Linked DNA regions of Homo sapiens. The protein of the gene in region 2 interacts with the protein of the main gene of each other region in a pairwise test. Each region holds a gene or a part of one and is shown on either strand. Other genes may lie near its edges.

What was found.
Region 1: the proteins of SERPINA3 (region 2) and VPS33A interact in binary tests that used the Homo sapiens proteins (3 or more experiments, as listed by UniProt).

The regions. Positions count from the first base shown.
Region 1 is NC_000012.12:122,235,460-122,242,496, forward strand, and holds part of VPS33A (vacuolar protein sorting-associated protein 33A), read right to left. Parts: coding exon 6,923-7,037; intron 4,487-6,922; coding exon 4,419-4,486; intron 3,266-4,418; coding exon 3,128-3,265; intron 465-3,127; coding exon 327-464; intron 1-326.
Region 2 is NC_000014.9:94,615,391-94,622,390, forward strand, and holds part of SERPINA3 (alpha-1-antichymotrypsin precursor), read left to right. Parts: intron 1-3,804; coding exon 3,805-4,078; intron 4,079-6,950; coding exon 6,951-7,000. UniProt on the Homo sapiens protein: Although its physiological function is unclear, it can inhibit neutrophil cathepsin G and mast cell chymase, both of which can convert angiotensin-1 to the active angiotensin-2.

The DNA of each region.
Region 1 (7,037 bases), on a different chromosome or scaffold from region 2:
TCCCATGTTAGTCAGGCTGTTCTCAAACTCCTGAGCTCAAGTGATCTGCCCGCCTCGGCCTCCCAAAGTGCTGGGATTATAGGTGTGAGCCACCGCGCCCAGCCCACATCTTTATTAAACTCTCCAGAAACTCCCCAGTTTAAGAGCATTCTCTGTGTCCTTCTAGGATTCTGATGGATACAATACATGCATACATTACTTTTTCAAAAACATTAGAAAATTGTTTTCAGAAAGCAAGGCAGATGTGTAGGTTCAGAAGCATGTGTTGTCACCTGGACGATCTAACCAGTCCCTAAGCTGAGACGAGGTGGAGAAGTGTGGCTTACTTGCTCATTAACATCATCCATCCAGAGGCGTAATGTTTTCCGTATAGTTGGGTAATTGTTTCTGCCCCCCGTCTGCGGTTTCAGCAGGCCGGCCTTCTCCAGGTTGTGTAAGGTCAATATGTGCTCATAGCCGTATGTCTGCAAGGGAAGTCATTTGGCCTTGATGTCAGATCAGGAAAAGGATTTCTGCAATTTTCAAAGAAGGGCACTTCCAACAAATCAATTTGGTTTGTACTGCAGGACATGTTACCAAAGTCCAGCAATGTTAGTGGATGGGCACAGAGGACAGGGTGGAGGGATGAAACTTGTCCTAAAACTGCTTGCCTGTTACTATTAATTCAGCTCACTGTTTCAAAGAGAAATTTAAAATTTTTACTTTAAAGTCAGAATTTATGGACCCAATCTAAGCAAGCATCAAATAAATGATAGTATATTTTTATAAGGGATATAATTAGCTCTAAAAAAGAGTAAGGCATATGTATACATCCTGATAAGAAAGGTCTCCAGAATATATTAAAAAAAAAATAACATGTAGAGTAGGACATTATTTCTATTTTTAAAAAGTAGCCAAGGTCTGGGCATGCTGGCTCACACCTGTAATCCCAGTACTTTGGGAGGCCGAGGCGGGCCAATCACTTGAAGTCAGGAGTTTGAGACCAGCCTGGCCAACATGGTGAAACCCTGTCTCTACTAAAAATTAAAAAATTAGCTGGGCCTGGTGGCATGTACCTGTAATCCCAGCTACTCGGGAGGCTGAGGCAGGAGAATCGCTTGAACCCAGGAGGTTACAGTGAGCCAAGATTGTGCCACTGCACTCCACTCTGGGCAACAGGGTGAGATACTGTCTCAAAAAATAAATAAATTTTAAAAAGTAGCCAACACTTATAAAATACTTTCTATGAGCTGGGCACTGTTCTGGTCTAAGCACTTACATACATTAACTCAGTCATCCCGGCTCTAACCCCATGACGTAGGTATCATTACCTTCATTTTACAGAGATGTTTAAATAACCTGCCTAAAGTCACACAGCTAGTGAAGAGCAGAGCTGAAACCTGGATCCAGCCAGTCTTGCTCTGAAGTCTGTGTATGGAAACATTCTGTCTAAATGCAAAGAATGGAGTTTGGAAGGAAGCAAATCAGACTGCTGACACTGGTCACATCTGGGGAGGGAAACTGGGGTATGAGCAAGGTACAGGGGACGTTCACATTTTGCTCTGTGTACTTCTGCATTATTTGACTCTTACACAAGGATACATAACTTAAAAAAAGACAAAAACAAAAAATTAATGAGCACTCAATTTTAATAAAAATGTACTTAACTGTCACTGGTAACAGCAAATAAATACTACCTGAGTCATTTTCAAACAAAGGGGAGACTTTTCAAAAACAAGAGTGGCCTTTTCCTTATTATAAGTAACACAGGCTTAATTTAAGTAAACCTGCTAAGCAACTGTCATCAGAAATTTGCAGAAAGTTCTTTTCCTCCGTGGTATAACTGCGGAGTTAAGAACATGGGCGCTACACTCAAATTGCCTGGTTTACCACTGGCTGTGCCACTTACCAGCCAGGTAACCTTGGGTGAGTTACCTAAACTAGTCTGTGCCTCAGTTTTTCATCCATAAAACTGGGACGATAGCAGTCTCTAACTCACAAGGCTGTTGTGAATATTTGTTGTTGTTGTTATGGTAACTACAGTTAACAAGGAAGTATTGTGAAGATGAAACAAATGAATGCACATAAAGTTTTTCTTTTTTTTTTTTTTTTTTTTGAGACGGAGTCTCGCTCTGTCGCCCAGGCCGGACTGCGGACTGCAGTGGCGCAATCTCGGCTCACTGCAAGCTCCGCCTCCCGGGTTCACGCCATTCTCCTGCCTCAGCCTCCCGAGTAGCTGGGACTACAGGCGCCCGCCACCGCGCCCGGCTAATTTTTTGTATTTTTAGTAGAGTCAGGGTACAGAGCCACCGCGCCCGGCCTATAAAGTTTTTCCAATAGATCCTAGCACATAGTAAATGCTCAAGAAATGTTACCTATTATTATTATTTTTTACTTTTTGTAAACAAGCTATGTTGCCTAGGCTGGTTTTGGACTCCTGGGCTCAAGCAATCCTCCTAACTCAGCCTCCTGGGTAGCTGGGACTGCAGACACAGCCACCATGCCTGGTAAATTTTTGTATTTTTTTTGTAGAGACAGGGTCTTGCTATGTTGCCAGGCTGGTCTTGGCCTCCAGCGATCCTCCTGCCTCAGCCCCACAAAATATTGAGATAACAGAGGTGAGCCACTGTGCCCAGCCTGTTAGCTATTATTATCACACAAATACAATAAACAGTGATGGCTACCAAGACCAATTCCTCTAGGTGTTAAAAAATTTATACAACAGTCGTTACAAGATACCAAAATGGCAGCTTTGTAATTTTTATTTTTTTTAATTTTAAATTTTTTATTATTATTTTTTGAGACAGAGTCTCACTCTGTTGCCCAGGCTGGAGTGCAGGGGCATGATCTTGACACACTGTAACCTCCGCCTCCTGCGTTCAAGCGATTCTCCTGCCTGATCCTCTCAAATAGCTGGGACTACAGGTGCATGCTACCATGCCTGGCTAATTTTTGTATTTTTAATAGAGATGGGGGTTTCACCATGTTGGCCAGGCTGGTCTCAAACTCCTAACCTCAAGTGATCCACCTGCTTTGGCCTCCCAAAGTGCTGGGATTACAGGCGTAAGCCACTGTGCCCGGCCCATGAAGTATTTTTTAAAAAGATGCTGTCCCCCTTGGCAAATTAATAATTTAAAAATATACTCACCTGGAGAATCTCTCTTTTGTAATAATCCAAAACTTTTTGTTTGAGCCCACTATTACACACGGATTGGAGGCAAACTAGTCTTAACACCTTGATCAACGAGTGCTTTTGGGCGATACAATCCTCAATGTAATTGTTGACCTGGAAATAAAGTAGCATACATATACATATACATTTACATATACATACACACACACACACACACACACACACACACACACACAATACATGGTTTAGGAACTTAACTTGATGTTTATTATTATTTTTCAAAGTCCAATAAAGGAGATACGTGGGAAAATGAGTTATTTTTCCACAGTCCCTAACCCTTCCCCGAAATAGCTCTGCTAGCCCCAGCCACACACACACCCTGGCCACCACACACACACACACACCCCACACACACATACATACATACACACACACACACACACACACACACCCCCCAGTGATCAGGCCAAGTCACTGGAGCCCAAGGCCGCTGAGAATACAATTGGTCACTCCATATGCCTGTCTGGACACGTCTGTCTCTAAGGACACGCTTCTGAGAGGCTACCAGATGTCTACTCCATTTCAATAGTATCAACAACTAATCTAGCAAAAAGTATCAGTAATTGTTTTATGTTAGGAATTTTCATAAAGTGAATAATTTAAAATTTGTTAATAGAGCTATTTAAAGGAGTTATATAAGAAACTCTTTCAAAAGAGCAAATACCTTATCTAATACAGTCTTAAAAAGATTTGATTTTAGGGGCCAGGTCTCATGTTGCCATGTATGGCAGAAAGTGTCTTGCACAGAATAATGTTAAATATCTGTTACTTGATAAAATCTACACTTGCACATTTTGCATTTGCTCTTAAAAATATTTAAGTGGCCGGGCGCAGTGACTCACGCCTGTAATCCCAACAGTTTGGGAGGCCAAGGTGGGCGGATCACAAGGTCGGAGATCGAGACCATCCTGGCTAACATGGTGAAACCCCGTCTCTATTAAAAATACAAAAAATTAGCCAGGTGTGGTGGTGAGCGCCTGTAGTCCCAGCTACTCGGGAGGCTGAGGCAGAATGGCGTCAACCCGGGAGGCGGAGCTTGCAGTGAGCAGAGATGGCGCCACTGCACTCCAGCCTGGGCAACAGAGCAAGCTGGGTGACACACAGTGAGACTCCGTCTCAAAAAAAAAAAAAAAAAAAAAAAAAAAAAAGGCAAGGCATGGGAATCAAAGCAATTGGTTTTCTGGCTATAATCTGAGGTTTAATAAGCTTTCAATTACTTGTTAAAGAGGTTTTTTTGTCCACATACCTTATCAGTGTCTATTCCAGACATAAACTCCTGTTCCACGGTTAATTTATCAAAAAAGTCTTCAGAAGCTAAAATGAAATTAGCAAATTTGCAACTTAGAAATTAAATGTTAATTTACTTGAGTGGCATGCTTTTATACACAGAGCACGATTCAGAAACTAGACATGTGGCTGGGCACGGTGGCTCACACCTGTAATCTCAGCACTGTAGGGGGCCGAGGTGGGTGGATCACTTCAGGCCAGGAGTTCAAGACCAGCCTGACCAACATGGCCAAACCCCATCTCTACCAAAAACACAAAAATTAGCTGGGTATGGTGGCACACACCCGTAGTCCCAGCTACTCGGGAGGCTAAGGCACAAGAATCACTTGAGGCGGGGAGGCGGAGGTTACAGTGAGCCAAGATCACACCATTGCTCTCCAGCCTGGGCAACAGAGCGAGACTCTGTCTCAAAAGAAAAGAAACCAGACATCATGCAAAAAAGCAAGCAAGCAATAAGTTCAAGTCATCACCTGAAGAAAATCTTTTAGGAAACATGGAAAACGCTAGGCCTCTGCACTCCTAAGTTACACTAGATACAGTCGACAAGTGCACTCTTTTGTATCCTTAGGATTTCAGTACAGACCCCAGAATGAGCGTCAGTATGAATGAAAGCTAATTTCTCAAGAACATTTCATTTTCATCATTAGGTTCAACCCAATTTCAACTGGTTTCCACTCCTATGAACAGGGAAACAAAGGACTGATTTTCCGATAACTGTGATTTACTTAAGATTCGAAGTATACTTCATAAAACAATCTCCTACTCAGCTTTTACAGCCCTGTGTTGTAACAAACAAACAAACTCATGTCTGCTTTAATAGATGTCTTCTGAGCTCTTTCAAAATACTCAACATATACTCTTTGTACCAATTCTGCACAGAATATTCAAGGGAAGAACATGCGCCAATAAGTAATCCTTCAAAAAAGGAAAAAAGCTGCTGGCCGCGGTGGCTCATGCCTGTAATCCCAGCACTTTGGGAGCCAAGGCAGGCGGATCACCTGAGGTTGGGAGTTTGAGACCAGCCTGACCAACATGGTGAAACACCATCTCTAGTAAAAATAGAAAATAAGCCAGGCGTGGTGGCAAGTACCTGTAATCCCAGCTACTTGGGAGGCTGAGGCAGGAGAATCACTTGAACCCGGGAGGCAGAGGTTGCGGTGAGCCAAGATTGTGCCATTGCACTGCAGCCTGGGCAACAAGAGTGAAACTCCGTCTCAAAAAAAAAAAAAAAAGAAAAAAAGCTAGACTAAAAAAATTAACCATCTCAGATTATGATGGCAAACTTATGGATAATTTTTTTCTCTTATCTACATTCCAAATATTTTTCATATAAATGATAATGAAAAAATTTGAGTTAAAAAATGGACCCTTCCTCTCTTTCTCTTTTTCTTTCTTTCGTTATTTCGAGATGGAGTCCTGCTCTGTCGCCCAGGCCGGAGTGCAGTGGTGCAATCTTGGCTCACTGCAACCTCTGCCTCCCGGTTCAAGCAATTCTCCTGCCTCAGTCTCCTGAGTAGCTGGGATTACAGGTGCCCGCCACCACACCTGGCTAATTTTTGTATTTTTAGTACAGATGGTGTTCCACTATGTTGGCCAGGCTGGTCTCGAATGCCTGACCTCAGGCGATCCACCTGCCTCGGCCTCCCAAAGTGGTGGGATTACAGACATGAGCCACCTCGCCCAGTCTTTTTTTTTTTTAATGGAGTCTCGCTCAACCAGGCTGGAGTGCAGTGGCGTGATTTCAGCTCACTGTAACCTTTGCCTCCAGGGTTCATGTGATTCTCATGCCTCAACCTCCTGAGTAGCTGTAACTACAGGCATGTGCCACCATGCCCAGCTAATTTTTGTATTTTTAGTAGAGACAGGGTTTCGCCATGTTGCCCAGGCTGGTCTTCAATTCCTGGACTCAAGTGATCTGCCTGCCTCAGCCTCCCGAAGTGCTGGGGTTACAGATGTGAGCCATCATGCCTGGCCAACAAATGGAACATTCTTTTTGTTTTGTTTTTCGAGATGGAGTCTCACTCTGTCACCCAGGCTGGAGTGCAGTGGCGTGATGTCGGCTCACTGCAACCTCCGCCTTCCAGGTTCAAGCAATTCTCCTGCCTCAGCCTCCCAGGTAGCTGGGACTACAGATGCATACCACTGTGCCTGGCTAATTTTTGTATTTGTAGTAGACATGGGGTTTCATCATGTTGGCCAGGCTGGTCTCAAACTCCTGACCTCAAGTGATCTGCCCGTCTTGGCCTCCCGAAGTGCTGGGATTACAGGCATGAGCCACCATGCCCCGCCTGGAATATCCTTAACTATTAACATATGTATACTTCATTAACACTGAGAAGAACACGTGGTATTAAGACAGAGCTGACTCTCCCGAAGAGGCATTGTGGTGTTGATGACCTAGGTGTCAAACGTTGTATGTGCAAGTAGCCCCAGACTGAAACAATCATTACAAAGGATACTCACTAGTGACATCTTTGATCAATTCTGCAATTGAGGTATGGTTTGCAAGCGAGCCCCTTGCTGCCTGCATGTGGGGCAACTGGGAAACAAACTGCTTGATCTCCCCCACGGTCTTAGC
Region 2 (7,000 bases):
AACCACTCCAGGGCGCGTAGGAGCTAGAGCTCCCTCCTTGCAGGGGTGCTGCTAGACTAGGCCAGGAAGTCCCTCTGTCTGGATGCACCTGGGGCTCCTGCCCTGCACATGTGGGAGGAGCACATTCCAGCCAGGGGCCTTGGTGTCTGGAGGTGGCCAGGTGGGGCTGGGGCCATCTTCACAGGGCAAGATAATCCCCAAGGAGCCTGGCCACTTCCAAGATTCTATGATTCTACTCTGCTATCATCTTTAATTATTTTAAAAAATATGTCACTGACACATAACAAATGAGGGCAGAAATGGCATTGTTCCCATCTGGGGAAGAGCCTCAAGGGTGGGCAGTATACAAAACATGACCCTTTGCCAGATTCTAACTGGTCCAGTGCCCAATCCCATTGATAGAAACTCAACCAATGCAAACCTCAGCCTGCAAGCTCCGAAGGGGCAGAGTGCAAGCCGGTAGCTTTTGCCTCCTGGAGCCCACAGTCCAGATGGGGACAAAAAAAGAGATAGGGACACAAAGAGTGATCACTGAGCCAGAGGGTGGAAAGGTGCTTAGGAGACATGAGCTGCTTGGAGGCAGAGTCCTGCTTGGAAGCTGTTGGTTGATTCCTGGGCAAGCCACTTCCCCTCCTGGGCCTGGGTTTTCATCTGTAAATGAAGGCGTGGATCCAGATCTCCCTCTAAGACTACTCCACGCCTCACGTGCCATTTGTTCTCTGAGTTTCCCATGTTCTCGCCTCCTACTACCTAGCCCTATGCTAGGACTCTCCCCTCCAGGACACAGTAGCCAGCCTAGCTTTCCCCTCCCCACCTGCCTCTAACAATGGGAAACAGGCAGGTGGTAAACAGGTGGGCAGTGGAGGTGGCCCCATGTCTCCAGCCTCCCCTGGAAGCTCCCACCCCCCTCATTGTTCAGTGCTCTGGTCCTCCTGGAGTGGAGACCTGCAGGGCCCCTCCCCTTCCTCTGTTGACCTCTCCTCACTCTCCAGGTGCCAGTTTTGCTCCCTGCCTCAGCCTGGTTTACATACAGTGTATGTGACGGGGCTTGGTCACTGCTGGGGCAGCCCTGTGGAAGGTGGAGGGGACCGAGCATGCATGAGCTTCAGGCTGAGACAGTCCCAGCTCAGAACCCTGGAGTGCTTGTTCCCTCCCTTTCTGCTCTTCCTCTTCCATTGCACCCACTGGACCCAAGAGCATGCAAGGATTGACTCACCCAGTGATGCTAGAACTATGTATTCAGCTGAAAGTAAGGGGGTGGGGGCATCCAACCAGGGGCAGAAGATGGGAATTCAAGAAAGGAAGGTTTCCCCTAGAAAACGGTTTTCGTCTTTTCTCTTAAATCCAGATAGAATAAGAAGCGAAGGCCGTTACAGCAGAGAGAAAGTTGAGTCAAGCAGAGATCAGATACTAAAGACACTAGACTAACCAGACATTCGGGCCCTCAGTTGAACAGCTGAGGATGTCAGAAGATGTTAAGGAGGCAAAATTGGAAAACTTGGTGGCTGGCAGACAGAAATGGGGGGAGATGGGAGCAGATGTGAGAAGATTTAAAGGCTTGTAGAGCTTGGGTGGTGATTTCATCCACCAAACCTATCTCTCTCCCCATTCTGGCATACAAGGCAGCAGTCAGGGTCCCCAGAGGCAGCCCATCTTTCTGGCAGGGACCCATGCTGGAGATCTGGCCAGCTGAAAGGCCCCAAAGGAGCTCGGTGCCCTGGGTAATATGGGAAGGTGCTCCATGGCACTGCCCTCACATGGAGGCCACAGAAGCCCCTGAATGGCTGCTGCAATTGGTAACGGGGACACCTGTTCAACTGAAATATCTCCTACCCTGAGATGGGTCCTTTCTCCAAGGGATCTTTACAATTACATTTGTCCCCAGTCATTCCATGTTGGGAGGCTGCAGGGACCAGAGAAGCTGAGATGGTCTTTGGGGAGGGGAAAGGAAAGATGGACAGTTATTTTGGTCCTAGAAAGCCCAAAGGTGGGGAAGTGTCAAGAAGGAAGATGAGGGCACAAGAGAATGTAGGGCCACCCAGAAGCTGGCTCTCATTGCAATTACAGAAAGAAAAACCAAAATAAAGAAAGAAAGGAAAGAAGCTCCCATTTATTGAGCAGCTACTCTCACCAGCCATTCACATGCAATACCTCGTTTAATTCTCGCAGCGGCTCTGAAAGGTGGATGGTGGTATTGCCATTTGTTAGGTAGGAGACATGCCGTCCAGAAAAGCAAATAATTAAACATTCAAAGTTGACCTGGGCCCATTTGAAAATTCCTTTTGCTCCCTCATTTTAACCCCTAAAGTAAAGCCGTTTGTGACTTTATGAGCTTTTACCAAGCATCTCCTAAAACCAAGAATGGAGGTGAAAGATTGTGGAGCCCACAACCTAGAGAAAGGATTGACAATTTTTTTTCCATAAAGGGCCTAGTAGTATGTATTTTAGGCTGTGTGGTCCACATGAGGGCAGATTCTTCTTTTTGACTTCCTCCTCTGCATCTTCTTCATCTTCTCTTTCCTCTTCATTTTTTTTACAACCTTTGAAAAATATAAGCACCATTCTTAGCTTTAGGTACACACAAAAATAAGCTATGGCTGTATTGGCTTACAGGCTATAGTTTCCTGACCCCTGTTCTAGGGGAGGAAAATAATTGTACCCAACTAAATGCGTGCGAATCATGGGCCTATGTCATGATTCCCAAAGAATGAGTTTCATGGAATTTTCAACATTTTAAATATTTTACTCCATTCTTCCCTTGCTTGCATAGTTTCTGATGAGAAGTCTGCTGTCATTTTCATCCTTATTCCTTTTTAGATAAGGTGGAGTTTTCCTCCCTCTGCCTCTACCTCTACCTCTTTCAAGATTTTCTCTTTCTCTTTACTATGGTAAATAGGCCTTTAGTGAGAGGAGTTATGTCAGCCTGGCTAGGAGTCAGGCTGCATTTCAGGTTTGTGATAGCTAGAGGTACCAGAGGCAGTTTCATGGAATTTTACCTTTGCAACACTGAGAGCCTAGGCAGCCTCAGAGTCAGAACACCCACAGTTGAATCCTCAGCCTGACAGACACTGAATCCAGGGCAAATCTTAGCTGAATATTCATGGTCTGTAGAGGTGGACATGAGCTAGATATGAGCTAAGGACCATAGCCAGCTCATGGCTTTTGTGATGTCCAACACCGCTATCCTCTAAGATGTCACAAGTGTCCCTAGGCTTTTATTCCCATGGTCTCTCCTGGCTCTGAGTTCTATCTTCCATTAAGGTTCTTCCTGTTCCTCCCCTCATTCACACTGATTGGCATCTCTTCTGTCTGCCCTCACCAACTCACATACAGAACCCAGTCTCTTTCCTCTTATTTCCACCCAAAGCCCTCCCACAAGCCACTGTTATATGTTCACATCCCTGTAATACCAGTGAGTAATAATTGCTAATGAGACATTTTTCCTTTTATGGAACAAAGGCTGTCCCATTTCTCCTCAGGCACCAGCCTCCCACATGTTGTCATGCCTCTTTCCCCCACTTTCCCTAAACCTTCTTTCTCTCTTGCACTCCTTATTCCCTGGTTCCTATTGATTTCTCATTTAGCACAAGGAACTAGGTCTTTCTTTTGTGGCCCTTTTCCCAATCCAAGCCTGCTGGGCTCTCCCTCACCCCCAATAACTTTTACTCTTGCCAAGCTACTTCTCTAAACCAAAGCAGGGTCCCTCCTATGAGGGACTCTGGGCACTTCCACTGCTGCGGAAGCAGGGTCGAGCAGGGCGACCCTTGCACTCACACCTTCTCCAACTGCTTGCTCCACCTTCAGCCAAATGGGAGATGCCCTTTGACCCCCAAGATACTCATCAGTCAAGGTTCTACTTGAGCAAGAAAAAGTGGGTAATGGTGCCCATGATGAGTTTGCATCACCTGACTATACCTTACTTCCGGGACGAGGAGCTGTCCTGCACCGTGGTGGAGCTGAAGTACACAGGCAATGCCAGCGCACTCTTCATCCTCCCTGATCAAGACAAGATGGAGGAAGTGGAAGCCATGCTGCTCCCAGAGACCCTGAAGCGGTGGAGAGACTCTCTGGAGTTCAGGTGATTCTTCCTGGCCCCCAAAGACCCCACATCTCTCCACGTCAAGGTCTCACCAATGTCCAGGGACAAGGGCATGGTGGTGGGAGAACTCATACAGGGACAGGTGGAATTTACACTTACTTTGCCCTATGCTGCCTACATGGCTTTGGGCTTGATTTTTCTTTTTCTTCTTTAAGACAATGACATCAGACAGGACAAGGGGCTGAGGCTTCCTCTGACTCCAGCATGTTCTAAGTCATGAGAAATCTTCTGCACAGTCCCAAACACTCATGCATGGTTTCTCCTGGTCTCAATCTCTTGAAGGGAGAGAGAAACAGAAGGAATTGTGATCAGTTGAGGGCTGCAGTGAGATGGACTCTGAGAATCAGTTCTGCACTGGTGAACCACTGTATTTATTCATTCTCTCAGCATTTGCTGCATGATTAATTGAGCACCTACTATGTGTCAGACACTAATTTGCACCCTGAGAGTAAATCAGCAAATAAAACACAAGATTCCCTGCCCTCCTGGAGCTTAATTTGTAATTGGAGAGGGGACAGGCAATAAATAAATATAACAAATAAGTTACGTGATATATTAGAAGGTGAGAAATTGAGTAAGGGGATAGAAATTGAGTAGAGGAGGATGAAAGGATCAGGAAAACTGGAACTCGTGTTAGTTTGTGATTTTAGATAGAGTAGCCATTAGGTGATGTTTGAGCATCCATATAACAGAGGGGAGGGGTGGAGTCATGTTGGTATATTAGGGAAAAGCATTCCTGGCAGAGGGAACAGTCAGTGCAAGGCCTCTGAGGTGGAAGTGAGCTTGATGTGGTCAAAGAAGAGTCAGGCCAGAGCAGCTGGGCTTCCACTTCCTCCATCTTGTCTTGATCAGGGAGGATGAAGAGTGCGCTGGCATTGCCTGTGTACTTCAGCTCCACCACGGTGCAGGAGCAGAGAGAGTGAGGAGAGAGTTGAGAGAGGTCAGGAGTCCCCAAAGGGGTGGAGCAGCTTAGGTAGGGCCACGTAGACCCCTAGAAAACCTTGCCCTTCCTCCTGTGTGTGAAATGGAGAGCCATCAGGAGGTTTGGAGGAGTGCTGCGATCCGAGTGTTGTTTTAAAAGACTAATCCTGGCTGCTGAGAGGAGAATAACTGTAGAGCAGGTATGGAGTCAGTGACACCCGCAGGAACCAGGCACAGACATGAGGTGGGAGCCCACTGTGGCTGGGATCCAGGAGGGAGCCATGCATGTGAGAAGTCATTGAGTTCTGGATAAATCTGAGGGTAGAGGAACTTGCTGGGACACACGGAATTGAGCTGACCGATTTCATGGGGACACAGTGAGGAGGAGCAGTAGTTCCGGGCCCAGACCCTGCAGTGGGCCCAGGGAGTGCATGTGGGCAGCTGTGTGGGGTAGAGAGGAAGGAGCACCAGCCTTGGGTTCAGACCGTGGTGGCTGGTGTGACCTGGAGCAGGTCGCTGCTCTTCTCTGGAGCTCAGCTACCTCCTGAAGAGAAAGGAATGTCCTTTCCCCACCACCCCTGTTTTCACTGGGTGATTGTGAGAATCCGGTGAGGTATTGTATGTTGAAGCCATAATAAACCACTAAGGGCAAGGGAGCTGCTTCAACACTAACCTGAGGCTGCAACCCCTGCCCCAACCACTGTCCAGAAGGCCGGACACCTCTCGGGATTGCCTGACCCTCAGCCCCTCCTCACTCTAGATCCCAGGAGACCCCAGAACGTGGGGGTCCTACCCAACCCATCCGTTTACTCCCAGACTCCTTCCTCCTTTAGCACCTAATAGCCACCAGGGAGCAGGGGCTCAGCAGATAATTTTGAGTGGAAAGAATTCTCCAAACACTTTTGATTTACAAAATGCTGAGGAAACATGTGTCCACACACTCCTGGCCCACAGAGAATGCTCAATAGATACTTGTTGAATGAAGGATGGAATGAACGGACAAACACATGAATGAATGAATAAAAATAGAAATAGGACACCTTCCTCCTTCAGGGGACTCAGAGTTTAATGGAAGACACAGCCTCCTGTATAATTGTAAGACCAGGCAGACAGTGACAGGCATCTTAAGAGGGCTATAAACTAAGGGAGGGGGAGTTTGCAGGTGGCAGGTGTGACCTGGGCCTCTAGGAGCTTGCTACCTGCTCTATGCCAGCCCACACCTGGCTTGAGGGACAGTGCCCACTGGTGAGGCAAGATGGGAACCTCCAATTGATTGTTTCAGGATCCCCAAAGCTCTTCTAACACAATCAGACTCTTCAGAGGCCCCCAGGCCCTTTTTGACCTGCCTCTGGCTCCTGGCCCACCTCATCCCTCACTACCCTCCTCCCTGAAACACTGAGATCACCCACCGCCCCGTGGAGCAACTCCTCCTGCTCCCACCTTCTTCCAGGTTCTTCCACCTGCCTCCTGCCCACCTCTTCACCTAGCTAGCTCCTTTCCTGCCTTTGGGACTCAGCCTCAACACCACCTCCTACAGGAAGCCCTCCTGGTGCCCCCGTGAAGCAGGCTGCCATGCAGCCACTGCAGCTGGCCCAGCCCAGGCTCTCAACACACTCAGGGGTCCCTGCTGGTGTGAAGGTGCTTCAACTGCATTGCAAGCTGCAGGGAAAGGGCAGGGCCAGGCTCGAGCAGGGCCACAACTCCAGGCTTGGTGTGCTGCCTGGAGACTTTCACACTTGCAGATCTGAATGAATAATTAATGAATAAGAAGAGTAAAGACAGGGGTTAAGAAATTGAGGAACAGATTATTTATTTTCCAATCAGAAGGGGGTGACTGTAGAGGAAACCAGGGAAGACCATGCTGCGAGGTGGGAGGCAGGTAGGTACTGATCAGCAGAGGTTCAGATACTTTTTTTTTCTCGTTTTCTAGAGAGATAGGTGAGCTCTACCTGCCAAAGTTTTCCATCTCGAGGGACTATA